Regions from separate parts of the Homo sapiens genome. Here regions 1, 2, 3, 5 and 6 are each reported to be linked to region 4. The links are microRNA targets in miRTarBase. Many come from high-throughput screens and were not tested one by one. Region 4 holds a microRNA gene; each other region holds the end of a gene's coding sequence.

What was found. Region 4 holds the annotated microRNA hsa-miR-122-5p (UGGAGUGUGACAAUGGUGUUUG, at 2,497-2,518, opposite strand). A microRNA usually pairs through its seed, bases 2 to 8, with sites in the 3' UTR of a target mRNA and lowers its output. Matches are read on the target gene's strand: a 7mer-m8 pairs with bases 2 to 8, a 7mer-A1 pairs with bases 2 to 7 and ends in A, and an 8mer does both.
Region 1: miRTarBase lists VWC2 as a target of hsa-miR-122-5p. Seed matches in the 3' UTR shown: 7mer-A1 at 3,176-3,182, 7mer-m8 at 2,000-2,006 and 7mer-A1 at 1,205-1,211.
Region 2: the mRNA of MYCBP is a reported target of hsa-miR-122-5p. The part of its 3' UTR that is shown has no 7-base or 8-base seed match.
Region 3: the mRNA of WSB1 is a reported target of hsa-miR-122-5p. Seed matches in the 3' UTR shown: 7mer-A1 at 2,973-2,979 and 7mer-A1 at 1,438-1,444.
Region 5: miRTarBase lists CPA3 as a target of hsa-miR-122-5p. The part of its 3' UTR that is shown has no 7-base or 8-base seed match.
Region 6: the mRNA of ZSCAN4 is a reported target of hsa-miR-122-5p. The part of its 3' UTR that is shown has no 7-base or 8-base seed match.

What each region holds. Positions count from the first base shown.
Region 1 is chr7:49,910,935-49,916,446 of GRCh38, reverse strand. It overlaps VWC2 (von Willebrand factor C domain containing 2), which reads right to left. Exons shown (of 4, transcript NM_198570.5): 4 at 1-4,413. The coding sequence ends at 4,262. It also overlaps a transcript of ZPBP not described here. Among named protein-coding and RNA genes, the nearest start is that of VWC2, 140 kb to the right of the region's middle.
Region 2 is chr1:38,861,993-38,867,303 of GRCh38, forward strand. It overlaps MYCBP (MYC binding protein), which reads right to left. Exons shown (of 5, transcript NM_012333.5): 4 at 4,888-5,017; 5 at 501-2,722. The coding sequence ends at 2,678. All of the region lies in intron 1 of RRAGC-DT (RRAGC divergent transcript), which reads left to right. It overlaps GJA9-MYCBP (GJA9-MYCBP readthrough), which reads right to left. Exons shown (of 3, transcript NR_037637.1): 2 at 4,888-5,007; 3 at 498-2,722. Among named protein-coding and RNA genes, the nearest start is that of RRAGC-DT, 4.8 kb to the left of the region's middle.
Region 3 is chr17:27,310,472-27,315,983 of GRCh38, reverse strand. WSB1 (WD repeat and SOCS box containing 1) reads right to left here. Exons shown (of 9, transcript NM_015626.10): 8 at 4,368-4,475; 9 at 58-3,774. The coding sequence ends at 3,615. Among named protein-coding and RNA genes, the nearest start is that of WSB1, 19 kb to the right of the region's middle.
Region 4 is chr18:58,448,094-58,453,605 of GRCh38, reverse strand. MIR122 (microRNA 122) reads right to left here and starts at 2,532; the gene lies at 2,448-2,532. MIR122HG (MIR122 host gene) reads right to left here. Exons shown (of 3, transcript NR_170245.1): 2 at 4,066-4,297; 3 at 2,325-2,787. MIR3591 (microRNA 3591) reads left to right here and starts at 2,454; the gene lies at 2,454-2,526.
Region 5 is chr3:148,896,484-148,899,483 of GRCh38, forward strand. CPA3 (carboxypeptidase A3) reads left to right here. Exons shown (of 11, transcript NM_001870.4): 11 at 37-720. The coding sequence ends at 224. Among named protein-coding and RNA genes, the nearest start is that of CPA3, 33 kb to the left of the region's middle.
Region 6 is chr19:57,677,025-57,682,536 of GRCh38, forward strand. It overlaps ZSCAN4 (zinc finger and SCAN domain containing 4), which reads left to right. Exons shown (of 5, transcript NM_152677.4): 4 at 890-1,055; 5 at 1,142-2,128. The coding sequence ends at 1,881. ZNF551 (zinc finger protein 551) reads left to right here and starts at 4,953. Exons shown (of 3, transcript NM_138347.5): 1 at 4,953-5,220. The coding sequence starts at 5,140. RefSeq lists an enhancer at 4,645-5,268 and a silencer at 5,324-5,393.

The DNA of each region.
Region 1 (5,512 bases), not on the chromosome of region 4:
CTTACCAGCAATGGCACTTGAACTGGACATTGAAAATGGCTAATACTCAACATGCTGCAAAGGACACTCAGGGCAGGATCTGAGATAGTAAAGACCATGTTTAGAGTATAGTCTGTGGTACCCAGGGCCCAGAAGTCTCACCAGCCACAGGGGCCTGGGTCATGGTGTTGTCCATGATCTAATTGTGAAGACACCAGTCTTCCATGTTGAGGAGTTTGGATGTTATTTTGTGTGTGATTGCGATCCTCAAAGAATTCAGTTGAAAACTAGATCTACATTTAGAAAACTAAAATAATAGACTGAAGAAGTTGGTGTGAAGTGAGGATATGACATAAGTAGGCTGTTTAATCTGTGCTACGGAGCAATGAGAACCTGATCTTTGGAAGTTGCAGCTGAAATGTGAAAAATATGTACTGTAAAAATGCACTTATTCCTGAATAAGTAAATTGTTCTCTCTTAATCTGATTCTTCAGAATAGTTACTGACTGTATCAACCATCAGATGCTACTAGTGAGGAAAAAAAATATAGTAGGTAAGTAGGTTCAGTAAGACAGTTACAAATTATGTTGGCCAAAGAAGCATGTATGTTTTTACCAATGATGCTTATTTGTACATCTGATACTCTTCATAATAACATTATGTTGGGGAAAAATATGATATTAAAAATAACAATGAAAAGTAGGATTGATCTCTTGCCCATTGAAGCAAATTTAGCAAATTGTTAATATTTTTAAAATCATAGTTTATGTCTATAATTTTGTTTTCTACATGTTTAAATAGTCCACATTTAAAATAATGGATTTAGTTTCCAACAATGCTTGTTTGAAACAGTGTATATTTTGTAAGTTTCAGATAATGTATACATTTAAAAACCCATTTCACTGCTTAAAAACAAAAATTAAACATCTGAATTTTATGATTTTTTAGGACTTTTAACCTTATATAAATGCAACATTTATGTTGGAGAACGAGGGAAGAAAGTTTATTAAACATATTATTGATGTTATGAACTTAAAACTGCATGATAATTCTTCTTAGCATGTTTTACTGCACAAAGCAGGTGATGAAATTCTAAGTATCAAAAGATTAAAAGTATTATAATCAAACCTAAATTAGTTTCAAGGCTTACAGACCCCTTGATGTCAAGGACACTGTGCCTCTCCATCTGCACTAGCTGCAACATTATAGCAGGACTTGCCTGGACTGGAGTGCATCTAATACTTCTTGCATGCAGGGATGAAATACAAGTTTTTGAAATGACTTTTCTCAAGACTTCTGGGAAATGTCAATAAAAAGTATTGTTAATCCACCCAACAAGTAAATATCCTATCACTGAAAGAATGAATTTAACTTGAAAACCTCTAAGACATCAGATAATTTCCAGAACCATTCTATTGCTTACATAAGTAGCTTTATACTTTCAGATCTAAATATGGGTTGAAAATTTGAAATAAATTCATTAATACATTTGTAAGCACGATTTAGTTTATTAACTTGAACAAATCATTTAACAATTATTAGGTACTTATAGAGCAGGCCTATTTGAATTTTAGTGATTATGGCTTTTCCAGAACTTCTATACTTGAATTCTGAGGCCCCCTTTTCTGTGCTATCTCCAAACCATATTATTTTGAAATTGAGTAACTTATACTTTCCTTTTTTATTGGGCAGTTATTCAGGTTATTTATTGAATAGAACAGTTTGTTGTTGACAATCTCAGCAAAGAGTTCTCTGACAACAGAGGGGAGGAAAATAGAATGTCAATCTGAGATAGCTATGTATTTGTGAAAGTCTAACTGCAAGAAGAAGTTGATCTTGGACAAAAATGCAAATAATGCCATTATTATTAATGAGTATATACAGTGTCAAAAATCCAAGTTCTTCCATGTGTTTGGTTTATGCATTATTTCTATGAGGAGAGAGGAATGAGGGGGTTGAAATCAGAGATGGGGAGGGGAGTTACTTTGGTGTAATAACAGCCATTGAGCTTTAGCTCTTAGGAGTGTGTGCTGGTGACCCTGCAGGTCAAACTAAGTTTAGAGCAAGTGAGTCAGTTAACTTCCCAAGATGATACTGGGTTCATTCTCTCTATATGCAACAAAATACTAGGTTTTCTGAAATTCTCACAGCATTGAAAACACCATTGCAATTATTTCAGAGCTCATCATCCATTCTGGTAGGAATTATTATTAAGGGAAACAGGAAGACTTTGAGCTGCATGGACTGAGTCTCTAACTGCATCATGCCTGATGGAGAGAGAAGAGGTTACTAATGGCCCACCTACCCATGGGGGCTAGGGCCATTTATTAGCAAAACGACAACTTTAAATAACTGTGTCTCAAACAATCCATCCTTGAATAAAGGAGGGATGGCCAATGTCTACCAGTCTTTAATACAAAGGTTAAATTTTGGAAAGCTGATTACACCTGAGAACAATTAGCTAATAATTCCCCTGAGTATTTTCATGAAATCTATGTACTGGTAGTTCCTTTGGCTCAAGGTGTTCTTTATGAACAAGACAAAAATTAAATGACTATATGTAGTGTTTTGATGACTCAGTCAGTGGCATCTTTATACTTACTAAGGTTCACAATAGTTTAATTTTTCAATTATGATAGATGTATCCATTTTTCTTGAATGTTATTCAGTCTTTAATGATTGAATTATTTTTTATATAATGATTTTTTCATGTTCTCCATCTTCTCATTAGGAAGGCTTTCTAATCTCCATTTGCTGGTCTCTAGTTTGGCTCCTAATACAATACATTATGATTTCATATACTTCTTATGCCAGAGACCGAAAGTCCAAGAAGGCAAGAAATCAAGCCTTATTCCCTTGTTGTCAATGCTTTGTACTTAATAGGTTCTTAATGCAAAATTTCAGAATAAACAAAAATATGAAAAATACCTTTAGAGGCTTCAAATAATGATTATATATATTTTAATCCTTTAAAGACATTAATAGTGATTATAGTTTTGCTTTTTTTATCCTACACCTATTAAGACTCCAATTACCTCTTTCATCAACACACCGCATGCTGATATGATTGATAAAGGTAGAACTATTTTCTATTATGCATTAATTAGATTAGCAGGACTTTGCAGTGGCTTTTTATGTTCTCTGTTCAAATGAAGAGAAAAGAAGTTGGTTTGGAATTATAACTATAGGAAAGTTGTGGAGTGCACTTGGTCTTCAGCTTTGTTTTAACAAAATAACTGCTTCCTCACTCTGCTTGTGAAGGGTGGCTAATTCAAGGTTATCAGTCAAGATTTTACTGTGTAGTTTATGGAGGATAGATGACTCAAGTCTGATGACAAATATGATTCCACTGAACTGACAGCTGAGTTATCTGTAGCACATTTAGATTTCAGGTATATAAACTTGTTTAGGAGTTTGATTTTCCTTAACTATCCTAGGAGAATCGAAGGACTCCTCCCCTATTTTGTTGTCTGCTTCAGCTTGATGGAACAGTAATGCAAATTTTCCAGCCTACTTTATTCCTCAGTTTAGGGAATGAATTAAAGTTATCCTTAGAAGAGAAAATAATGTAAATAAGAATGAAATATATGTATGTGCTTACCTATGGTGTACAATACAGGAGCTTAGGGGAAAGAACTGAGAAAGTGTGAGTTAGTGATCTTTACACCTGCATTTCACAAGTGACTGAGAATGAAGCAGATAAAAGCCATATATTATTATAAAAAGGAAATATATTTATGTGAAGTAGACATCAACATTAGAGATATGTCTGTAATTAAATAGAATTTAAACAGGGTTTCAGTGGAAATTGGTCCTAATATCTTATGATCCATTCATGCGTGACTCTGCCCTGTGAAAATGTGCAGGGGGAACATTCCTGGGTGATGGAATCAGAACTGAAAAAGATATGCAGGTACACGGTGAGGACGGTTGACAACACAGCATTTTTAATCTGCATCTATAGAAAACACTTATATAAGCTCTCTAATGGAGGGATTATAGAAATACATTTGATATATAATAGTGTACTTTTGTGTACTTACTGTGAAAATAGCACATTTATTTAGAGAAGGATTTTATGCCCAAAGTTCTTGTTGATGTTTTGAAATATATCCATTTCCTTCTGTTGTAGTAACTGTTATCAAGAAAAGGAAAAGTACCAACAATTTTCCATTATTCCTCATCAAAAGTCTTCTTTGACTGATAGTTCCCAGAGTCATCTAGAATGTTCACATCAGTAAAATGTTCTAGAAAAAGTCAGAGTTTGTGTTCTGGGAAGCGTCTACATTTGCCTGCATTCATGTCTCGTGCACATGGCCTGCCGCTCGATTCTCCATGTGCCTTCCTCATAAGTACAGTGGCATATGGTGCACTCGTCAGTCTTCACTTCTCTGCCAGCAGGGATCACCGCGGTTTCTGCAAAGCAGTTTGGACCTGAAATGCAGAAAAATGTTTTATACTATATGTGTGCATAAATATATAATATATATAATTAGGTATTAAGCATTACAGTATATATATGTGTGTGTGTGTGTGTGTGTGTGCGTGTATTTGTTTGTTTGTTTGTTTTTGAGACAGAGTCTTGCTCTATCACCCAGGCTGGAGTGCAGTGGCACGATCTCGGCTCACTGCAACTTCTGCCTCCCGGATTCAGGCAATTCTCCTGCCTCAGCCTTTCAAGTAGCTAGGATTACAGGGGCATGCCACTATACCCAGCTAGTTTTTGTAATTTTTGTAGAAATGGGGTTTAACAATGTTGGCCAGGCTGGTCTTGAACTCCTGACTTCAAGTGATCCACCCACCTTGGCTTCCCAAAGTGCTCAGATTACAGGCATGAGCCACTGCACCCGGCCAATGGTACATATTTTATTCAGTTTCTTTTATGAAGGACAGTGGCAAAGTTATAATTTCAGTAATAATGAAATACTCTACTTTTGTTCTGAAATGAAACCAATGCCATTTAATTTTTTTTTTTTTTTTTTTTTTTGAGACAGAGTCTTGCTCTGTCACCAGGCTGGAGTGCAGTGGCACGATCTCGGCTCACTGCAACCTCTGCCTCCGGGGTTCAAGCGATTCTCCTGCCGCAGCCTCCAGAGTAGCTGGGACTATAGGGGCGTGCCACCACACCCAGCTAATTTTTGTATTTTTAGTAGAGATTGGGTTTCACCATGTTGGCCAGGATGGTCTCGATCTCTTGACCTCGTGATCTGCCCGCCTTGGCCTCCCAAAGTGCTGGGATTACAGGTGTAAGCCACCGCTCCCAGCCCATTTAAAATTTTTATAAGAGACAACACTGTGACTTTCATTAACTTTTCCATTTTGGGGCTAAAATCTGCAGCCATTTCGTTTAATTAATTCTAAATACTCACAGAAAAAGCATAACTAAGACCTTCAAAGAACCAGTCCTCTTCAGGACACTTTCAGCAGAGATATCTTAAAACAAGCAAACTGCTTGAAGTGACATAAATTCAGTATACCTTCCAGGCCTCCGAGGGCAGCTTTTCAAACTTTCCCATACATTACAATGGCCTGG
Region 2 (5,311 bases), not on the chromosome of region 4:
TTTTTAACTGCCACTTGCAGCTAGTGTGTACCAAATCGGAGAGCCCAGCCTTATATATTCAAATCCTCTATTGGTCACTCTTTATATGCATTCCAGCTTGTCAATATCCATCAAACATCTGACTCCTACAAAGCAATACTAAACAGTACAACTTTCAGAATGACCATTTAACACCTAGACAGTATTTCTATTCCTGCTTTCCAGAATGTAATTTTTTTTAAGCATCCATAGGGTGGGTCACATTGATAATCACTGTAACTAATACTTTGTCAGCAATCCTAGTGCCTAAATGTGTATAACTGCATTTTTTAACCTAAATGTAAGACTTGATACTTCAACTTTTTGGTTTAGGCCCAGCAGTTTGGGTATTCCACGTGGTTAATCATTTTAAAGCTTGTTTCAATATAGTCTTCCAACCAGACTTTCCAATTTGTGTCACTTACAGATTTGGCACTACCACCATCTGGTCTGTATGTAATCCTTTACAGTTTGCAAGGCACTTTTACATCCATTATATTTAATTTGATTCTTACAACCAACTTGTGAGATAGGCAAGATGTGAAGTCGATATTTTATAGACAAAGCAGCTGAAGCATAATAGGAGCTTAACTGGTGGGATCCATTTATCCATTTTCTCTTCCATGGAGCATCTTGTTGTATTCATCCAAATCCTTGACAGAAATGTTGAAGAGGACCTCTAGAGGCTAAGCTTATCCTGAATTCTTAAATAGCACTGACTGTTACAGTTTAAGCAAGTCAGTTTCACCTAAAAGTGTGATTATCCAACCCACATGTTGCCTTTCTGTTCAAAAAGGATGGTACCAAAGACAGTCACAGTCACCTGGCTTACTGACATAAATATTAATACTAATCAAATGAGTAAAAAGCCCATGAGGATTGGCTGCCACAAAAAATTTTCAACCTGTATCTACCAAGAAACTATCATACCAACTAAGGAAGCCAAGTCTCTCTCTCTTTCAAAACCCTCACGGGGCCATGCTTTATTATAATGGTCTGCCACAGGTCCTAACCCACACTGTATTTGATTATATACAGTCTCATAATTAAGTCATTCCTCTTTATCACACCCAGCACTTAGTCCACTGCTGCCCATGTAGGAGGCACTCAAATTGGTAAAAGAGAAATCTATGCAAGGGAATGATCTTCTGGACCCCCTCCAAAAACAAACTTGTGACTAGAAGAGGCACCAGCCATAGCCACATTCCTACTAACAGGGCTGATTTAAATGCCCTTTTTATTGGCTTGGTCATAGTCTCCAACAGGTGCCAAGGCTTTTGCTAGTTAAACCAGTTTTCATTGGATCATTTTGTTTTCTATGTGTGTTTTGACCAAAAACAAAGATAGGTTCTCTAACAACAGGGAGAGAATATATGAAATAGGAATATGTCTATAAAACGACAGTCTACCAGTAAGGAAAATAAGTGATCCATAAAACAAAACATCTGACTGTAGGTCTACCCAAAGAAAGGAAAAAGGACTAACAAACAAGAATATAGTGCTTTACCATTTACAAATCTTTCACATACATTCTCATTTGACCCTCACAACAACCCTGTGAGGTAGGCATCACGGACATTCTACTCATTAAACAGATGAAGACAGTAAATCTCAGAGTAGTTCACTGATAATGCCCAAGGCTCTACAGTTAGTGAGTGATTTGTATTAATATCAGTCTTTGGCCTAAAAATTCAGCACCCCTCTTCCCCTTATACTTGTCCCACCTACTTCACAGGGATAATGAAGATAAAATGAATTCAAGGCTAGAAAAATACTTTGAGGGAGAAAAGCACTATATAATTATACCTACAAACTATGATTTTCCCCAATATATGGCTCATTCCTCTTCTCATCTCAGCTTGTGTGTGAACCCAGAGTTGTATATTGCCTCTGTCCTGTGCTCAGTAAGCAAATAAGGCAGGCAGGGGGTACAGTGTGATCCTGTTTAAAGTTACATAAATTACAATCAGGGTAACTGCTATTATTAGGCAAATTGAAAAACAGCACAGAAAGGCCAGTGTGCAACTAGGACCCACTAAAGCTCAGAGGAAAGCAATGCAAGATTATCAGACAGGCATGATTGCATAGAAGGAAAATGTGGTGTCAGAGTTCAAACTGGCACACACACACACAGTTATCTAAGGCAAAGTGGTGGCAAAGAAGTTATTTGTTCCATGTCACACAAACAAGAGCAGAAGATTCATGGGAACCCGTACAAAAGCATCTTGTGTCACACAGATCTCTCCAGCTGCCTATAGGGAATATACAGAACAGTGTCACCTTCAAAGAATGACTGTACCTGTGTTCATATCCTGAACTGCACCAAGGAATAGCTCCATGCTAAACTGTCTTGGCTAAAATACAACCAGTGCCATCATTCCTAATCAGACTAATAAACAGAATGTCTTTTAAGGTAATGAGTTAGATGGCTGTGTTTAGGTTTTGTTCAGGATTTACTTTGGATTCTCCTGCTTTAAGACCCAAAGAAAGTTATATTGAGTTTTTATTGATGATTCTATGTGTTTTTAACAGAGTGTGATAGGTGAATTAAACATATTAAAAGAGTTCTATAGCATCTGTTCAGAAAAGATTATATACTATACAAACTATTCAAGTCATACAAAACCATTTTTCATTGTCTTTCAAACTGAGAAGAATCCTATTCAGCACGCTTCTCCTCCTGAGGTGGTTCATACTGAGCAAGCTATGGGGCAAAGACAGAGGAATTTAGGTGAATTTTATTCTAAATTGAGTAAAAAATAGTAAAACAAGGTAACTGTTATATTCAACTTAGTTACTGTCAGTAAATTGTATTAATATCAGTTTCTATAACTATCCATTTTAAATCATTCAGTGATTTAAGATTTAATACAATCAAATCTAATGAAAGCCCTTTTTATATAAACCTTTAAAATTGCTTTGAAACTAAAATTTCATTCCAGTTCATGACTGCACTGTTCAAATACTTGATATGCAATAAACTATATCTTCCCAAAGATTCATTTGCTTATAAGGAACTTTCTTCCTCTCCAGCAAAAGTTTACTGAAAATACCCACTGAAAAGTAGATAAAGAGTTAAGTGACATGTCTTAACTTAACCAGCCAATAAACAACTACTAATGTCTTTGAGTTAAAAGGTTCCAAAGAGTTAACTAGCACTACACATTGTGGAATCTTGGATAATTTAAAATAACTGCATTTTCTTTTATGCTAAGTGTGGTTCCTTGCAAGAACACTAGGCTAACATTAGGGTTCTGCCAACTACCTGTTGGAGTTGAGAAGCTTATTAGACTTCACTGTGCTTTCGTTTCCTCACCTATAAAGTGGCTTGTGTACTTGTTTCACTTATCTCACAAAGTTGTTGAGAAGATAAAATATATTATGAGAAATACTTAGAGTAATGTAAAATACATTATGTGATTAAGAATGTGGTAAGACCTGAAAGACTTAAGAGTTGACTAATTTGAAGTTCATGAAAATTCTCACAGGACTTTGAAAAAAGAAAAAACTGGCTGGGTGAGGTGGCTCATGCCTATAATCCCAACACTTCGGGAGGCCAGGCCAGGAGGAACGTTTGAGTCATGAGTTTGAGACCAGCCAGGGCAACATAATGGGACCCCATTTCTACAAAAAGTTTAAAAATTAGCCGAGCATGGTGGCAAATGCCTGCAGTCCCAGCTACTCAGGAGGCAGAGGTGGGGGGATTACTTGAGCCTGGGAAGTCAAGGCTGCAGTGAGACATGACTGCACCACTGCACACAAGCCTGGGTAACAGAGAACCTGTCTCAAAAAAAGAAAGAAAAAACTTTAGCACTAGATAAAATTAAGTCCTAACAAATTTACAGAGGGCCGCTACATATGGCCTTGCAAACTATGAACCATACAAATTCTAAGAAGTGCCATTTACAAAGCAGTCGCCCCATATTGGCCTACTTAAAATCAACTGCTTAAGAACCTCAGAACTGACCATTTACTTATAAAGAACATTAACCAATATTCTCATCCTTTTAGTAATACAGGTTCCTAAGAACCTCTTTTTTTTTTTTTTTTTTTTTGAGACAGAGTTTCATTCTTGTTGCCCAGGCTGGAGTGCAGTGGCACAGTCTCGGCTCACTGCAACTTCCACCTCCCGGGTTCAAGCAATTCTCCTGCCTCAGCCTCCCAAGTAGCTGAGATTACAGGCATGCACCACCAAGCCCGGCTAATTTTGTATTTTCAGTAGAGACGGGGTTTCTCCATGCTGGCCAGGCTGATCTGGAACACCTGACCGCAGGTGATCTGCCCACCTCAGCCTCCCAAAGTGCTGGGATTATAGGCGTGAGCCACCGCACCCAGCCAGAACCTCTTCTTGACCACACTTTGCTTCTTTGCTTGTCCTATTTCCAGTATGTCTTGCGGTTTTCTTTTTTTTTTTTTAACCCCCCTAGATGAAGTCTTGTTCTGTCACCCAGGCTGGAGCACAGTGGCACGATCTTGGCTCACTGGAACTTCCATCTGCCGGGTTCAAGCGATTCTCCTGCCTCAGCCTCCCGAGTAGCTGGGATTATGGGCACATGCCACCATGCCCGGCTAATTTTTGTATTCTTAGTAGAGACAGGGTTTCACCATGTTGACCAGGCTGGTCTCGAACTCTTGACCTCGTGATCTACCCACCTCGGCCTCCCAAAGTGCTGGGATTACAGGCGTAAGCCACCGTGCCAGGCCCGTCTTGTGGTTTTCTTGACAGGGCATAACTTTGGCCTTACATTGTAATTAATTCAAATTGATATTCACCCACCTCCCTCCCCTCCTGTCCATTTCAGTGAGGTTTTCATCATACAATTATTACAGGTAAAATTATTTGAATATGAATTCTTTTTAAAAATTTACCTTTGCTTTCAGTTTTTTATTTTCTTCTACAATAGCTTCATACTTCTCTTTCATTTCGGCCAGTTCTAGGCGAAGCAGCTCTATTTCTGGATTTTCTGGAGTAGCAGCTCCTAAGTGATGCTTTAAAAAACTATTATCAATGTTAAGAACTTACTTCTTAGACATGAATGAAACTAATGAAATAGCACAGAGTAGTATCAATATCCCTGACCAGAGTCACCCACTTTACCACCAATATCTACCCAGAGATCACCATCCAAAAACTCAAGTGAAACTAACTTTCTTGGCCAGGTGCGGTTGCTCACGCCTGTAATCCCAGCACTTTGGGAGGCTGAGGTGGGCACATCACGAGGTCAGGAGTTTGAGACCAACGTGATGAACATAGTGAAACCCCGTCTCTACTAAAAATAAAAAAAATTAGCTG
Region 3 (5,512 bases), not on the chromosome of region 4:
CGTTCATTCCTTCCAAGCATCTTACCATAAACATCTGCCAAGGTTATGACGAGCATGTCACTAGGTTGCATTTTATTAGTTGCTGCCAACAGCTCTTACTTCTGATGGAAAAGAATTTAACAACAACAAAAAAACCCAGTATACTCCAACTTATGCTTTTTCTATGCTTTTATCACCAAATGATAGTACATCCATATATAACTCTAGATATTTGTTTTATAGTCCACACACTTGCTAGTTAAAATGTATTATCATAAGCCACAGTCTGTTCAGAATTACTTGGGTAAAATGCTATGTCACCTACAAACCCTCATCTGATTAATATGGAGGTTGTAATCACTGTCTCAATGGTTTCAGGCTCGTGAAACTTCTCATGCTATTTTCTTACGCCTGTGCTGGCTGGCTGACGGCCAAGTCCTCTGCCTCTGCCACTGCCTCAACCCATAAGCATGCTACAGTGCAGTCCAACCTTTTTTGGTCTTGCCGACCCAAGAGCAGTGTAAACCAGTTGAATCCAACTGCATCACAGTCACAGCAGGCAGGAAATTTCAAGGATCGTTAAGTTTAAGATTTGCCAACCTAAGATCAAGTTATAGGTTTTAAAGTGATTTCATTATCGCAAAAGGATAGCTTGGCTGCTGAGTGTGATTTTCCTATGTTCACATGTACTCCATGGGATTCTAAAACAGAAAATTAAATCTGAACATAAATGATCTGCCAGTTCTCCAAATGACAGGCTTGTGGCAAAATAGGAGAGGCAGTGTCATTTTCAAATCATGTAGCTAGAATCTGATCCAAGTCCATAATCAACGTCTTCCCTATTTTCCTTTGGTCCTTCAGTCTGTTATTACTGTTATTACCTTCTTCCCCACAGACAAATGGAAAATTCAAACATGTTTCTACTTGACATATACGCTGCAATCTTCCTTTCACACTGGCACTCACTATGGTTTTCACGAGAAGAGGTGGCAAACAGGTGAACATCTCACAGAATGTAGCTTCCAAAAATGCTGTTTTGGGCCAGGTTCGGTGGCTCACACCTATAATCCCAGCACTCTGGGAGGCCGAGGCGGGCGGATCACGAGGTCAGGAGTTTGAGACCAGTCTGGCCAACAGTGAAACGCCGTCTGTCCTAAAAATACAACAAAAATTAGCTGGGCGTGGTGGGGGAGCGCCTGTAATCCCAGCTGCTTGGGAGGCTGAGGCAGGAGAATTGCTTGAACCCAGGAGGTGGAGGCTGCAGTGAGCCAAGATCGCACCACTGCACTCCAGCCCAGGTGACAGTGTGAGACTCCGTCTCAAAAAAAATAAAAAATAAAAAATAAAAAAAGCTGTTTTTACTTGACTGGATATGTTGGTGTGGAAAGCAAAAATAATGCAATGATATGAAAAGTAATGGTATCTTATTTATTTAGAGTCTTACTCTGTCACCCAGGCTGGAGTGCAGTTGCGTGATCTCAGCTCACTGCAACCTCCATTTCTCCAGTTCAAGCAATTCTCTTGCCTCAGCCTCCTAAGTAGCTAGGAGTACAGGAACCCACCACCATGCCCAGCTAATTTTTGTAATTTTAGTAGAGACAGGGGTTTCACTATGTTGGTCAGGCTTGTCATGAACTCCCGGCCTTAAGTGACCCACCTGCCTTGGCCTCCCAAAGTGCTGGGATTATAGGTGTGGGCCACTGCGCCCGGCCAGTGTATTTTAAAATTATAAAGCCGATATATTACAAAGTAAAATGCAGGGGAAAAAAAGTCACAAGAAGTATAAAGATTAGATGCTTCTTGTGCTTCTTTTTGTAAAATACAGATGATCCTCAAGAAGTAACTTGAGCAGATTTTCTACTGGCTTTCAAATTGATAACCCTACACCCCCTATAAATTTTTACATTCCTTAACAGAGCTAACCATAGGAACTTCCAAATAATTTCTCAGTGGAAATGAGTCTTCAAAATCACACATGGCTCATAAGAGTTTTGCTTTTTTAATGCCTTCTCAAAGGACCCAGACTGCTAGATTTTCATAATAACTACTTTAACCAGATAGACTTACTATAGGCTGGTAGTTCCCCACTAAAAGATACTTTTCTCTTGCTTAGTAGTCACCTTCCTGTGTTCTAGAGCTTCCCTATGCTTTTAAAATATGCATTATTACAACAGTTCTCCTAAAAACAAAACCACCATAAGAGCTGCTGCACTCGGGGAGCCCTGAATGAATTCTAGAGCAGCGCCTGAGTCCTGCATTCTTTCTTCATTGTCCTTTTTGCTTAATTTGCCTGTGGTGTACCATCAACCTTACAATGGAGACAGAGAGAAAGTACTCCACCTAACCTATTTAAGAAACATTTGCAATATACTGTTTTTTTTTTTTACAAGTCTTTAATTAAAAAACTCAACAAAAATATATAATTGAGCATTTTACATAATGCATACATTCTTAATATCTGCAGGTAAGATAAACAACAGAAGGCAAAAGCAGATATGCTGTATTGCTTCTTTGGCAACTCACCAATATCATCCCCTGCAGAAACAGAGTTTTTTTTTTTTTTTTTAAATCCATGGTCTTAAAATAATTGTCCCTTAGTATAAACAAAATATTTAGCAATAATACAGTAGACGGATTCTTCAAATTCACAACAATTTATAATACTTTATACCACAAGGGTAAACTAGTAAGCTGCTTTCTAAAATTAAGGCAGCAGCAGTGTTTAGAGGGGGAGTAAAAAAAAAAAAAAAGACATCCTTTTTCTAGTTATATCCTGGCTCTGCCTTCTTTGTTGTTGTTTTTAAATAACGTCACATTCAAGCTCTACGTCTTGGATGACATTCCTAAGGATAATAAAATCCTTTTCCCTGTACATAAACTGTGTTTCACTTCCAGATCAGTCTGACACTCTCCAACAAAACCAAATACATTTCGTATGAGGCAACACAATTTTTTTTTTTTTTTGAGATGGAGTCTCGCTCTGTTGTCCAGGTTGGAGTGCAGTGGTGTGATCTTGGCTTACTGCAACCTCCACCTCCTGGGTTCAAGCAATTCTCCTGCCTCAGCCTCCCAAGTAGCTAGGACTACAGGTGTGCACCACCACGCCTGGCTAATTTTTTTTTTTTTTGTATTTTTAGTAGAGACAGGGTTTCATCATGTTTGCCAGGCTAGTCTCAAACTGCTGACCTCAGGTGATTTGCCCGCCTCACCCAATTCAACTTTCGTAAGTCAGTATTTACCATCTAACTCAGTGTCCCAGAATTTAAAATTTCCTTGCACTTTACAGCAAAGATACATATTGTGGCTCTACTGAAGCAATATATACATGTCAGAACTAAAAATCAGAAAAGCAAAAGGGTCCATTCAACATATAGCAGCTTATATCTAAATATGTACAGGTATGTATGTTTTCACAGTTAGATCTTTAAAAAAATTTATATTTGATATGTTCAGAAATACTTCTATTGTCTATAAATAATATTTTAAAAGCTCAACTGATCAAAATGCAGTACAAGAACATATCAAATTAAATAAATCTTCTACGTCTTTAAAAACAGATAATTGAAGTCAGTAAAGCTTGAGGTTTGTGTTAAGTGTATTCTGTCAGTCCCTACTACTAGGGAAGGCAGAATCTTCTAAATACGATACGAGAGAAACTCCAAAAGCTTGGAAGGAATCGGCAGCTCCTGAACTTCTTGGGTGGGCATCACTCTTCGGATTGACATGCGACATAAATGTTGCAGGCTAGGGACCTGCCGTGGAGTGGCCCAAAAATACACACTTCCGTCATGTGTCCTAAACAGAAACAAAGCACATGCTTAGTCACCCAAGTATATGTATTTCAGTGTTGCTACAGCTCAAACAACTATCACCCAATACATGTGAGTAGTGGAGTCACAAACTTCACATTAAAACCCAACCAGGAAGAACTAACCAATGATGTATTCCATGACAAGGTAACACTACTATGAAGAACACTTATTAGAGTTTTACTGACAATAAATTACTAGCTGCTAAAAGCCCCCTTAAATTGGCCCTTAAAGAAAAGAGAAAAATGGGCCAGGTGTGGTGGCTCACGCCTGTAATCCCAGCACTTTGGGAAGTTGAGGCGGGAAGATCACTTGAGGTCAGGGTCAGGAGTTTGAGACCAGCCAGGCGAACATGGTGAAATCCCGACCCTACTGGAAAAACGAACAAACAAATAAATTAGCCAGGACTGGTGGTGTGCACCTGTAGTCCCAGCTACTCGGGAGGCTGAGGCAGGAGAATCTCCTTGAACTGGAAGACGGAGGCTACAGTGAGCAGAGATTGCACCACTGTACTCCAGCCTGGGAGACTACATCTCAAAAAAAAAAAAAAAAAAAAAAAAAAGAGAAAAATATATTTACCCAGCAGCTAAAACACTGCCATCAGTAGAGAAGGCACAGCAAAGACCATTGCTCAAAGGTGCAACTTGCACTGGATAATCCTCATCAATTCTCCAGAACCTCACCATTCTGAAAATGAAATAAATTATTTAGTATCTTGTAGAAAATGTAAGGTAAAAGCAACTTTTTTAAAATTTAGAAAGAAATGCCATTGAGTTATGAGTCACAAAATACACACATCACACCAACAGGCAATTATAATAACTTGCTTTATACAATTACAAAATATTTTAAGGTCTATAATATCAGTTGGTAAATTGGATAAACTTTCACTTAAGAGACTACAATGCATGGCTGCCTTCCCTCCTTCCCAGTGTTCAAACCTAGAATGTTCACACCCGGAAACTTTCTCCTTACTTTCCTACACTTACAATACAATCAACTTCTAGTCTGTTTCACCCTTTTCCCAAGACATTTTTAAAAGCTAGGTGGGCCTGGTAGCTCACAACCATAATCCCACCACTTTGGGAGGCCGAGGTGGGTGGACTGCTTGAGCCCAGGACTTTTAAGACCAGCCTGGGCAACATAGGGAGACCCTGTCTCTACAAAAAATTTTTTAAAAAAACTAGCCAGGTGTGGTGGTATACCCCTGTGGTGTGAGATACTCGGAAGGCTGAGGTGGGAGGATCACCTGAGCCCAGAAAATCAAGGCTGTGGTGAGATGTGATTGCACCACTGCACTATAGCCTGGGCAACAAAGCAAGACCCTGTCTCCAATAAACAAACAAAAAAAACCAGGAAAGGAAAAAAAGCTTTTCACCCAGGCTGAGTGTGTCTACAAATACAGCAGAGAACTAACATGCAGAATCTATCTGAGCAAACAGGAAACAATGGTTGCAGACAAACAAACAAAAAAAACCTCTCTCCATATGTTTGCTAACATTCTGGGAAGAGAAGAGCTGCCTTATGAATTGACGTCACCGAACTACTCAATGCTATATGCATGAACACAGATGGTTGCAACTAGTTTCTGCTTCTTACCAACAAGCAGCACATATCATTCATGTGACATTTCATATTCTAATCTCAATCATGGTGGATACAAATTACTATTTATTTGTAATTCTTTTGGTTTTACTATTTGTTTCACTTTAGAAATTTCCTTC
Region 4 (5,512 bases):
ATGTAGATGGCTGCTTGGTGTTGGGACAGTTTGTCTACCCTCTTCCTGACCCCAAAGCTACCACTTAGATGTTCCTTCTCTTTCATTTCATGATTACAGGGTTTTGCAATTTTCAGCTTTCTCTGCACAATGAACACTCACAAGGAGACATTCTTATATGGCTCATCCCTCTCTAATTTACAGGTTTTCCCTCAGAATCCACTGACAAAGCAGATGGGGAGATGAGGATATTGATCGCATACTGGCGTGATTAACCCAGGTTCTACACAGATTCGACTGTGAAGCATGAGATTTCACAAAATAACTAGGCCAAAGGAGGCTGCAGGTACAGGACAGAACTTTAGACTTAAGAGATCCATGTTGAGTTGTGGCTGGAGGACCAGACGATTCCAGAACCCTTTAGACTCTGTTTGTCAAACCGATCATCTTTGCCCCATGTTGTATGGATCAAATGAAATGGCATGTGATATGGTTTGGCTGAGTCCCCATCCAGATCTCGGCTTCAATTGTATCGCACAGAATTCCCACGTGCTGTGGGAGGGACCCAGGGAAAGGTAATTGAATCATGGGGGTCAGTCTTTCCCCTGCTATTCTCATGATAGTGAATAAGTCTCACGAGATCTGATGGGTTTATCAGGGGTTTCCACTTTGGCTTTTTCCTCATTTTCTATTGCTGATGCCACGTAAGAAGTGCCTTTCATCTCCCGCCATGATTCTGAGGTCTCCCTAGCCATGTGGAACTGTAAGTCCAATTAAACCTCTTTTTCTTCCCAGTCTCGGGTATGTCTTTGTCAGCAGCATGAAAACACAGACTAATACAGTGTGCATGAGCGTGATCTGTATAACAGTAGAGCCCTCTATTAATGCCTGTTCAATTAGAGCCTTTGCCAAAAAAATACACACAAAAAGGAATGTCAGTGTCTCAATTATTTCAGGGAGTCTGATTCTCTTCTTGACAGTAGATGGTGCCAGGAGGGAAGAAATGAGAGGTGGTAAGAGATGCAGGGCAGGCAGGGGTGCTCTTCTTCTTCTTTGGACAGAGGCATCTCATGACCTTGAAGCCTTTGTAGTGTATCATAAATGTGTGGGCTGCATTCAGGTGAGGCTTTCCAGCAAGGGACTCAGAATTATTTCGCAAAGTTTTGCTCATTTGGCTCCCGTTTGGAACAATTACAATGGTCCCAAAATATAATGCGAGCCAGTGAATGCCCATCTCTGGAAATAACATCAGACACATTTAATTTAAAAGTGTCTTCAATGCCTAGGACAGTGTCAGGCACACGGTAGTCTCTACACATATTTATTTCATAAGTGAATGGTTGAATGGTTGAATTTGTTTCTGATGGTTGATCTAACCCTGTCTATTTGATTAAACATGTCCTACTTCATTTAACCAAGCCTGGGGAGGGAAGCTTTAGTCTGGCACAAACGAAACCTACTCCTGACTTTAGACACCTCTCAGAGACAGAATGGGTTCCAAACCAGAGCACCTGGCTGGGCCAACTGTCCTAGAAACTGCATGGGTCCCAGATTTGCTATGGCAGCTCACACATGCTTCATAAACAATTTTCTGATGGTAATTCACTGATGCAAGAGGAAGAAAGGCCTAGTGTACGAATTCAGTAATCAGCCTAGTAATTGATTGAAATCAGTAGAAATCAAACATATTCTAGAATTTCTGAAACGTCAGTGAAACCATGTGTAAGTTTATTAGAAAGTTGGATTTTTTAACGACGAAAAGAGAAGGACCCACACACCTTAATTTTGTACCTATAAGCTTGCGGTCTGTCTGCATAACATAGATTTAGCCCAGTCTTAGCCTTCTGCGTCTAACACTTTCCTAACTATTCATTTTAAGTCTATAAGCATGGGTTAAATGATTACCTCGTGCCTGGCCTTGTGTTGGGGGCTCTGAGGAACTCTGCAATCTTTTTATTTTCATTTTTTGAGACAGGATCTTGCTCTGTCACACAGGCTGGAGTGCAGTGGTACCATCACAGCTCACTACAGCCTCAACCTCGTGGGCTCAATTGATCCTCCCACCTCAGCCTCTCAAGTAGCTGAGATTACAGGCACATGCCACCATGCCTGGCTAATTTTTGTAGTTTTTGTAGAGACACGGTTTCACCATGCTGCCCAGGCTGGACTTGAACTCCTGAGCTCAAGTGATCCGCCTGCCTTGGCCTCCCAAAGTGCTGGGATTTCAGGCGTGAGCCACCGTGCCTGGTCTGCAATCTTTTTATTGACTTGGGAAAACAAGAAAATTAATCACCAGCTAAGGTATGTAACAACAGCATGTGAGAGGCAGGGTTCAGCTAACCATATTGGTTATGAGTGCAAAAGAGCCAGACTTTATTCAGTAAGTACACAAGATTGAGAAGACTGATATCAGATGAACCTTCTTGCTCAAAGCAAACGATGCCAAGACATTTATCGAGGGAAGGATTGCCTAGCAGTAGCTATTTAGTGTGATAATGGCGTTTGATAGTTTAGACACAAACACCATTGTCACACTCCACAGCTCTGCTAAGGAAACTCTGTAGCCACGAAGGTGTTAACTTCACCTCCACATTCCACCATTGTCACTGATAATAGGGGAACCTTGTCAGCTCCACATATTGTGACCTAAGCAGAGAAAAGAAGCATCACGGGTACAAGCATCTTGAGCAATGGGAAGAGCTGAACACTCTCAATGAAAGGCTTCTGTGTTCTGGAACAGTAGAGTAGTAGAGGGGTCCACTGCCTGTGTTCCACTGCCACCCAGCAAACCCCTTCTGCAAAAACTTCCTGTGAAAATGGACAGGAACTCTGTTTGCAACAATTTTCTAAAATGGCTGAGAGAGAAAGAATCTCTAGAGGGAATAGATTTCTGGAAATAAATACTTATTGGAAGACTACATTATAAATGAGAATAATCTGGCCGAATGAATGGATACTCTCCAACTCTCACCTCTTCACCTACTTCCCAATCCATCATCAGTAAATGTGATCAATTCTGCAGTCTAGGAAAATTAAAATTATTTTATATGGGGATACAGCAGTTAGATGTGTTGTGATCTACTCTCCGTGGCATCTATTGGATATAAAGGCATCTGGTCTTGCTCAAATGTTCAATCTTCTTGACCACAGTCATTTTCCACCATGGCGGTGGGTGGGAGATGAGGGGAGAGAAGAAAGAGAGGAAGATGGAGAGAGAGGAAACGAGTCCATTTTTAGTTCATGATACTCATTTTCTAGCAAAAAGGGAGCTCCAAATAAATCCCTACAGGATTTACTTGGCTTTCCTGTTAAAGATGGTTTATAATTGTTATGTGAACTCCTGCCCACCATGGAGAATGAGAGGAAATAAAGCATTTTACCTACTCCTTCTTTTCCTGCAAATGCTGAAAAGGGAAAGGGTTGGGAGCCAGTTATTTTTTCCCCAGGATAACTGAGTTGTTAACATCTGACCAGAGTCTTGCTTTAGCCCTAAAACCGGCCCATCTTTAACAGCTGTAAATGAACCCTTCCGTATTTTTCAGAAAAAAAAAAAAAAAATTGCGCCTTATTCTCATGTAGATCCTGAAATCACCCTCTTCAAGCTGGACTTGCAGTGATTATCCCCCTGCGAAAGCTGAAAGTCGTTCTGCTCCCATGGGTTGGAGTGTTGAAGTTGCCTCTTTTTTTCTTTCCCTTTTTCACTTTGTGGATTCGTTATCTTCCCCTAAGTGACTGATTTCCTTTGGTTCCTGTCTGTGGCCCTGGCTTTCTTTCATGAAATGTGGTCATTTGCAAGGCAGCAGGCCGTGCCAGTGCTACACATACTCTCTTAGGTGGGACTCGCCTCCTGGGCAGTTTTCCATGACTCAGAGAGAATGACTACGAACCCTAGAACTGCTCTAGGTGGCCCCAGTCACTGCCACAAACCCCTAGCACTCTGGGTGTGGCCAGCAGTGGACACAGGCATGTGGTGGCCCATCTTGTCCTTCCCTTTCCCTACAGCTCCTCCTAACACAGTAGCCAGGCTTGTCCTGCTTAGTCTTTGCTGAGGGACCTAGAACAGAAATCGCCACCTCCTGGTCATACCAGGGCTATCGCTGACCATCCACAAGAGGCTCTAGAAGTCTCTTAGCTCTGCTGGGAAGAAACAGTGAGAGGTGAACAATTCACTGATTAAAAGGGTCCCCGGAGGATGCGCTTGGAGCGCTCTATCCTGGGCAAGGGCTTGGACCCATTTCACTTCTCAGGGCTCCATAGCAGTATCTGAGCATCCTCCACTTCTCCATGGGGGCTCTGTTGGCTTTTGGCTTTGAATAATCTGCAAAATACAGAAAAGGGAAGGAACAGATGGAAGATGAAAAGAGATGAGGAAGTTAATGCATTACAGGTAAATCTTACCAACTCCCCACCCCCCAAATCAACCTTTACAGGTAAATCTTACCAACTCCCCCCACCCCAAATCAACCTCAATTTCTATGGCCCAGAAATCTATCTCCAGGAAAATGTCAAAAATTTGTAGAAAGATTTACCTATAAGGTTGCTCATAGTGGCATTGTTTATAAGGGTAAACATTGGAAACAACCTAAATGTCCAGCTATAGGAGAAGAGTAATATATTTATGATAGACCATAATTATTTAAATTGATTCTGTAGAAAAGTCTGGTAGACTTGGAAATTCAAGATATGTTATTGAATTAAAAAACAGTTTATAAAACAATATACACAGTATGAGTCCCTTTCTGTGAAAAAATGCATACATGCCTGAGGCCAAAACATCAAATGTTAACCATGGTTATCTTTCAGTAGAGAAATTATGGTTTGTTTTCATTTTCTCCTTTTGTGTGCATTTGTTAATTTATGATTCATATGGCACTTTTTTATTGAGAAAAATGAGGATTTAAAAACTTTTAGGCAATTTTCTTTCTGGACTCTCAATACAAATTCCTTCTTGCAAAATACTCTTCTGAAATTGGGAAGGTTGGAACCCATCCTGCTCATATACAACTTGTCACAAGCATGAAAAGTTAGTGCTGTGCTGAGTGGCAGGCCTCAGGCTAATTTTTTAGCAAATTATTAGTGAAATACTTTATTATGCAGTACAATAATTTTATGGTATTATTGCATCAATCACTAAACACATATTGAGTGCCAATCATTTTCTGTCTTGTGAGCAATTTTTAAACATTGCTAAAATGGCCAACATCTTTTATTACTACTTTGTTTCTGCAGAGGTGGTTAAACTGTCAATTTACAAAGCAGTTTAAACAAACAAGCAGAAGGTTTTCTTTTTTTAAAAAAAAAAAGTCATCCAATAATATATCGCTAGTAAAATAAATTAAAAGTGGTTAGTGTCAGGATCCACTTTTGAATATTTTAAACATTCACAAAATAATTTCTCATTCTGCAGATTTTTAATGTTCTAGTATTTTCAAACTTAACAACTGAACTTAAATAGTACGAGCTAATAACAAATAGAAACATTATACACTGGTTGGGAAGTATTAACACGTTATTTCCTTTGAAAAAATAATGC
Region 5 (3,000 bases), not on the chromosome of region 4:
GTCTCTAATTAAATATTTACTGCTTGTGTTTTACAGACCCGATATCAGGTTCTTCTTTAGACTGGGCTTATGACCTGGGCATCAAACACACATTTGCCTTTGAGCTCCGAGATAAAGGCAAATTTGGTTTTCTCCTTCCAGAATCCCGGATAAAGCCAACGTGCAGAGAGACCATGCTAGCTGTCAAATTTATTGCCAAGTATATCCTCAAGCATACTTCCTAAAGAACTGCCCTCTGTTTGGAATAAGCCAATTAATCCTTTTTTGTGCCTTTCATCAGAAAGTCAATCTTCAGTTATCCCCAAATGCAGCTTCTATTTCACCTGAATCCTTCTCTTGCTCATTTAAGTCCCATGTTACTGCTGTTTGCTTTTACTTACTTTCAGTAGCACCATAACGAAGTAGCTTTAAGTGAAACCTTTTAACTACCTTTCTTTGCTCCAAGTGAAGTTTGGACCCAGCAGAAAGCATTATTTTGAAAGGTGATATACAGTGGGGCACAGAAAACAAATGAAAACCTTCAGTTTCTCACAGATTTTCACCATGTGGCTTCATCAATTTATGTGCTAATACAATAAAATAAAATGCACTTAATGCTTTAAAATTCATCTTTTTATGATAAACTATATTCTCTGTATTTCTCTATAGCATTAATAATCAATATTAATGCCATTCATTCAGTCTGTTAATAAGAAATAATATCTTCAATTTTCAAAAACATAATTTGTCTATCTTTTTCTGATAGAAGTAGACATTGTTTATATCTTCAAAAAAGCAAAAGGATGTCCTAGCAGGAAATAAAGTGGTTCATATAGAGATGAATCTCAGTCCTTTAAATAACCGATCCAGTTCTCATCAGCATAATGTACATTAAATTCAAAATAGTTTAATTTAACCTGCCATAATCAGAAGAAACCACCTGCTAAAACATCTGTTTGCCGGTACAGACACAGACAAGACAGTCTGGTCAGCTGTGACCCCTGCCCTCCTAATGGATAGAAAGGAAACCTGGAAACATACTGTAAGTTGAGGACGGAAAGTCATGTTGACCAAAGGCAATCAGGGTAACTTGCTGCATTTGTACCATTTATACTCCTATTATTTAAGATAGTATTATTGGATAGCTTCTCCCCAACACCAATACCTCAATGTGTGATCAAGTGGCAACAGTGGCAGTGTCTACATTCCCAGAATCCAGACACAGATGCCCACCACAGGACTGACTATAATTTGAGGGACAAGTAGAGAGTTCCTTGACTTCCAGTAAACTTACTTCTCAGAACACCCCAGACAGTTTTCAACGACTGGGAAAGGTCCTGAGAAGTCAAGTCAATAAACAATCTGGGACATGCCTCATGAATCCTTTAGGGACACATAAAAGAAAGGATGGCATCAAAGCTACAAGATGATGGTGTGTTCTGATAGTCATGAGGTAGATAAAAGTTTCCCATGCAAAATTGTCCAGGAAAAGCAAATGTAAACTAACAAAATTGCTTTACAAGGGGAGAAGGGGAAGGTGACAGAGTCAAGAAACTAAAAGAGAAAAATGTGGCTATGAGATTATATTGTCTGATTAAAAATATGGTATCTATGTCTAAATATTTAGCATTCCAAACTAGCTTCAGAACGTGGGAATGTAAATTTGTTTCATTATACATGCCATATTGGAATTATATACTCATTCACACTTACTTACTCAAATGAGAAAGGACTGAAATATATTCTAACCCTAAAATTCATATAAATACCTCTAATTCCATTGAGCCTTTAGATGGAGGAGATAAAAGAGATAATCCCAATTGCAGAATATTATCCCATGTCCATCCATTATTCAGTTTATAAAGACACAAAAGTTGAACACACTATTTGAATTATTATGCAGCTTAATATTTTTTCTCAATCAGAAAAAAAATTAGCCTGAGTGGCTAAAAATAAAAAATCCTAACAAGATCTCATCCTAATTAAATAGTTTTTGAATGGCATCTGAGGGCATTTACTTCTTTCACTGCATATGAATTGTGAAAATAAATATGTGAAGACAAATATCTACATTAAAGTTAAAAAACTAAAATTTTACCTTATTTATGAGAAAGTTTGAGTGGCAAGTGCTGTGATTCTTCCCTTTTCATTTCTCATCTATCAGTAAAAGGGCTTTGTACCCAAGTTACAAGTTGTGCTATCACATAACAATATTCTTGACAGAGGCCAGGCACGGTGGCTCATACCTGTAATCCCAACATTTTGGGAGGCCAAGGTGGGAGGATCACTTGAGCCCAGGAGTTCAAGACAAGTCTGGGTGATAAAGTGAGACCTTATCTCTACAAAAAAATAAAAATAAAAAATTAGCCAGCTGTGATGGCACATACCTGTGGTCCCAGCTACTTGGGAAGTTGAAGCAAAAGGATTGCTTGAGCCCAGGAGGTCGAGGCTGCAGCGAGCCAAGATCACACCACTGCACTCCAACTTGGATGACAGAGCAAAACTCTGACTCAAATATACATATGCACACATACACACACACATACATATGTGTATGTACATAGATACACAAAATATATATGTGTATATACATATATACAAAATACATATGTAAATATATATATATCATCATTCATTTTCCAATTTTCTTGCTATAAAACTCACTCAAGAGGCATTGTTTCATATTTTGAAAATGTGTTCTTTTATAGCAATATCTAATTGTTGAGGTGCACATCTGAGATGTACATCTCTATTATGAAAAAATGAAACATCTTATTTTTACTTATGCAAATAAATGTTTCCAGTAAGTCTTATGACTCCAAACTGATCTTTAAATGTCATATCAGAGGTCCCTTCCCCACATTTGACACATTGGATATGTTCTTTGACCACAGAAGTGCTCATTGGCTAAGTGAACATTAGGCTTACTGACAAGAGTATCTGTTTCTCATTTAACACAAACATCTATGCCTGATTTTCTTTAGATGAAAAAATAAAGAAGTAACCCCCAAAGAAACTTAG
Region 6 (5,512 bases), not on the chromosome of region 4:
GCCTTGGCCTCCCAAAGTGCTAGGATTACAGGTGTGAGACCAGCCTGAAATTGACATTTAAATGAAGACATCAAGGTTGAGGAAGAAATGTCTTGACAAGAGCTTGTTCTTCTGTCAGGGAACTCTAATCAAGAAAGACATTCTAAAGAAGCAATTACGGTAGATCCTTATTCTCAGAGCCCATATTTGCAAAATTGCTAAAATTTATTTGTAAGCTTAAAATAAATACCTGAGGCATCTTCTCCGTCATTTTCAGATATGTGCAGGTGGTAAAATATTTGATTTACCTTAGGTGCATGTTTCCAGGTGAGGTTGAACAAGGCCACAACCTCACTTCCTATTTTGGTTCCTACAGTGTAAATAAGTGTCCTTTTCACAGTCTATTTAGTGGCACATTTTTTTTTTTGCTTTTTATTGATAACTTTGTTGTTTAAAGTGACACTGAAGTAAAATGCTGAAACACTGTCTAGTCTTCCTAAGTGCAGGAAAGTTGCTATGTATTATGGAGATAATACATGTGTTGGATCCTCTGAGTTCAGGATTAATCAATAATATATATTAAATGGGGTGTCTTTGAACATATACACACATAAAACAAACTCATGTATTGATCAGTTGACAAAAATAATGTAGCCAGAAGCTCACAGGAAACTAACCCTGAATTTTTCCTAGGGGAAATGATTCAGTACTTGTAAATTCAATGTCCATGTGACTTTATTAAACATAAGAGCTTGTAGTAACAAGAATAACACCATCAGAGATGGTGGACAAAATATGTGATAGCCAATACTTGAGGGAGCTTGTGAGAGCCTGTTAAGGACCACTTTTCCAAAAAGTCTTCTGTTACACAACAGATTCAGATACAACAGTGATCTGGCTTTCTTTACAGGTCCACGTCCACATGCAGGGACAGGAAGCTCTCTTTTCTGAGGATATGCCCTTAAGAGATGTCATTGTTCATCTCACAAAACAAGTGAATGCCCAAACCACAAGAGAAGCAAACATGGGGACACCCTCCCAGACTTCCCAAGATACTTCCTTAGAAACAGGACAAGGTAAGTCAGGTGAATCTGCACAACTGAGGAGTGTTCTATGTGGACCCCTTCTTAAGTACAACTTCATTGAGTGTCTATTTTCACAGGATATGAAGATGAACAAGATGGCTGGAACAGTTCTTCGAAAACTACTCGAGTAAATGAAAATATTACTAATCAAGGCAATCAAATAGTTTCCCTAATCATCATCCAGGAAGAGAACGGTCCTAGGCCTGAAGAGGGAGGTGTTTCTTCTGACAACCCATACAACTCAAAAAGAGCAGAGCTAGTCACTGCTAGATCTCAGGAAGGGTCCATAAATGGAATCACTTTCCAAGGTGTCCCTATGGTGATGGGAGCAGGGTGTATCTCTCAACCAGAGCAGTCCTCCCCTGAGTCTGCCCTTACCCACCAGAGCAATGAGGGAAATTCCACATGTGAGGTACATCAGAAAGGATCCCATGGAGTCCAAAAATCATACAAATGTGAAGAATGCCCCAAGGTCTTTAAGTATCTCTGTCACTTATTAGCTCACCAGAGAAGACACAGGAATGAGAGGCCATTTGTTTGTCCCGAGTGTCAAAAAGGCTTCTTCCAGATATCAGACCTACGGGTGCATCAGATAATTCACACAGGAAAGAAGCCTTTCACATGCAGCATGTGTAAAAAGTCCTTCAGCCACAAAACCAACCTGCGGTCTCATGAGAGAATCCACACAGGAGAAAAGCCTTATACATGTCCCTTTTGTAAGACAAGCTACCGCCAGTCATCCACATACCACCGCCATATGAGGACTCATGAGAAAATTACCCTGCCAAGTGTTCCCTCCACACCAGAAGCTTCCTAAGCTGCTGGTCTGATAATGTGTATAAATATGTATGCAAGTATGTATATTCCTATAGTATTTATCTACTTAGGATATAAGATATAATCTCCTGATTATGCTTTCAATTTATTGTCTTGCTTCATTAAAATGTAAGGCTAAGGAGAGCATGGAATTTGTCAGTTTTGTTCACTAAAGTATTCCAAGTGGTTGGGAAAGTGGAACATTTCCAAGAACCAATAAATTTCTGTTGAATAAATGAATGAATCCATAATGTTGATATCCTTTTTTAAAAAAAGAGATGGGGCCGGCCGCAGTGGTTCGGCCTCCCAAAGTGCTGGGATTACAAGCGTGAGTGACCGTGCCCGGCTTTTTTTTTTTTTTCTGAGTCAGAGTCTTGATCTGTCGCTCAGACTGGAGTGCCGTGGTGTGATCTTGGCTCACTGCAACCTCCACTTGGAGGTCCAAAATTAATCATAGACACCAAACCACAGATCCAGAAATCTCAGAGAAGAGGAAGCAGTGTAAATACCAAAAACCTACAACTAGGTACATCATATTCAAACTACAGAAGGCCAAAGATAGAGAAATTCTTGAAAGAAGATGGAGGTGGGAGAGGGCACTTTACCTGCTGAGGAACAAGGATGAGATTTAGAGTAGAATTCTTGTCAGAAACCAGATAATCAAGAAGGGAATGGAGTGAAAGTTCAAAATTTAGTACAAAAAATAAAACCCCACCCTAACATCTATATCCAGCAATGTTATCTTTCAAAGGTGGAGGAGAATAAAGCTTTTCTCACACAAATACTAAAGAATTCATCCCCAAAGGTCCTGTTACAGGGTCCCTGCATTACATGTGAAGCAATCCAGTAGTTATTTGAAGGTCGAATTAGATTAAAGATGTTTAGGCTGGGCACAGTGTCTCATGCCTGTAATCCCAGCACTTTGTCAGGCTGAGGCGGGCAGATCACTTGAGTCCAGGAGTTTGAGACCAGCCTGAGCACCAAGGCAAAACCTCATCTGTACAAAAAATACAAAAAAACAATTAGCTAGGTTTGGCGACATGCGCCTGTAATCCCAGCTATTTGGGAGGCTGAGATGAGAGGATCACTTGAACCTGGGAGGCAGAGGTTGCAGTGAGCTGAGAACAGACCACCGCACTCCAGCCTGGGTGACAGGCTCAAAAAAATTTTAAAAAGATGTTTATTGTAACTTCTAAGGGAGGAATTAATATTTTTTTTTTTTTTTGCTGGCAACTTTGATTAATTTAAACATACAAAAATTAGCTGGGCATGGTGGTGTATGCTTGTAACCCCAGCTACTCAGGAGGCTGAGGCAGGAGAATCGCTTGAACCCGGGAGGCAGAGGTTGCAGTGAGCTGAGATCGCGCCACTGCACTCCACCCTGGGAGACAGAGCAAGACACTGTCTCAAGAACAAAAACAAAAAAGCCCAGGCGCAGTGGCTCACCTGAGGTCAGGAGTTCAAGACCAGCCTGGCCAACATGGTAAAACCCTCGCTCTACTGAAAATACAGAAATTAGCCGGGCATGGTGCTGGCGCCTGTAGTGCCAGCCACTTGGGAGGCTGAGGCAGAAGAATTGCTTGAACCTGGGAGGTGGAACTTGTGGTGAGCCAAGATCAAGCCATTGCACTCTAGCCTGGGCAACAGAGTGAGACTCCGTCTGGGAAAAAAAAAAAAAAAAAGAACTGATAAACAAATTCACCTGTGTAGCTGAATTCAAAGTCAACATGCAAAAGTCAACATGTAAAACTCATATGCCCTTCCATACACTAACAATGAAAAATCTGAAAAGGAAATTAAGAAAACAATATCATTTGCAATAGTAATGTATATGGTCAAATGATCTCAACAAGGCTACCAAGACCACTCAATGGGGAAACGATGATCTTTTCAGCAAATGATGCTGGGAAAATGAAATATTCACATGCTAAGGAATGAAGGTGAACCCTTACCTAACACCAAAAACACAAATGAACTCAAAATGGACTAAAAACCTAAACATAAGACCCAAAACTATAAAACACTTAAAAGAAAATATAGGGTGAAAGTTTTATGACATTGAATTTGGCCATAATTTCTTGGATTTGACACCAAATACACATGTGACAAAAGAAAAATAGACCAATTAGACTTCATGAAAATTAAAACTTTAGTATATCAAACAATAACAAAGTGAAAGAGGAACCTATTTAATGAGAACAAAATACAGGTTGAATATCCCTGAGCCAAAAATCTAAAATCCAAAATGCTCCAAAATCCAAATTTTTTTTTTCTTTTTTTTTTTTTGGAGACGGAGTCTCCCCCTGTCGCCCAGGCTGGAGTGCAATGGCGTGATCTCGACTCACTGCAACCTCTGCCTCCCAGGTTCAAACGATTCTCCTGCCTCAGCCTCCCAAGTACTGGGATTACAGGCGCTCGCCACCATGCCCGGCTAATTTTTGTATTTTTAGTAGAGACAGGGTTTCACCATGTTGGCCAGGCTGGTCTCGAACTCCTGATCGCGTGATCCACCCACCTTGGCCTCCCAAAGTGCTGGGATTACAGGCGTGAACCACTGCGCCCGGCCCGCCCGACTAATTTTTGTATTTTTAGTAGAGATGGGGTTCCGCCATGTTGGCCAGCCTGGTCTCGAACTTCTGACCTCAGGTGATCCGCCCGCCTCGGCCTTCTAAAGTGCTGGGATTACAGGCGTGAGCCACCGCGCCCAACCCCCTGAAATAATATTTGTTTGCCTCTAGGGGCACCCTGAGCTTCGTGGAGTCTGAAATAATGTCTCTAAACACTTAAGTGATCAGTTACGGAAAACACTTCCCAGAAATCTGGGAAAAGCCCCTTTAAGAAGGAGTAAATACCTCCTTCTCCCCTAGAGGCCGAAGTCGCCATTTCCCTGCACGGGGCACAGCACCTCAGAATACAAGTTCGCAGAGGTCAAAGCAGTGGACACACTCCGAAGAGCTCCGTGGAGTTTTGGAAACTACATTATCCAGAGTGCAGAGCGCAAAACGGCGGCGGAGTTGAGCCAATGACAGCCCAGGATAGCAACACTTCCGCGCACGCGCAGCGCGACGGGCCGGAACTTCCGGCGTCCTCCTCGTGGCGGTCATTTTGGCCTCTGTCCTGTTTGTCCAGCCCGCCAGTTTCTGCAGTGGAGGTCGCGACTGAGGGACGGGACAGAGAAGTCGCGAAAGTGGGCCAGAGGTTCTGCGACACCACCTCGGGTGAGCTGCGCCAGGCCCGGGATAGGGACTGTTGTGTTCGAATGCCCGCCCCGGTCGGCCGCCGCTCCCCGCCTAGTCCACGGAGCTCAATGGCGGCAGTCGCGCTGAGGGACTCGGCTCAGGTGAGTTGTGCGTCCTCCGGGTCTCGCCTACCTCCCCCAGCAGAAGCCTTAAGGCCCAGTGAGGGATGCCTGCTCACAGCCCTGCAGCCCAGGCCCCAGTACCCTGGACAAGAAGGCGCTTGTGGATTGGACCCGTTTGTGACGCCCAGTGTGTACGGAAATGTGACGGGCAGTTGACTGGCGCGTGCAGAACTTGGAGCTGCGACTAAGCTGGGGGGGATTCAGGAGCCTGGGGTCCGTCTCGGGTCTGCAGGAACATAGAGTGAGGCAGAGTTGCACCTGACGAATTTGA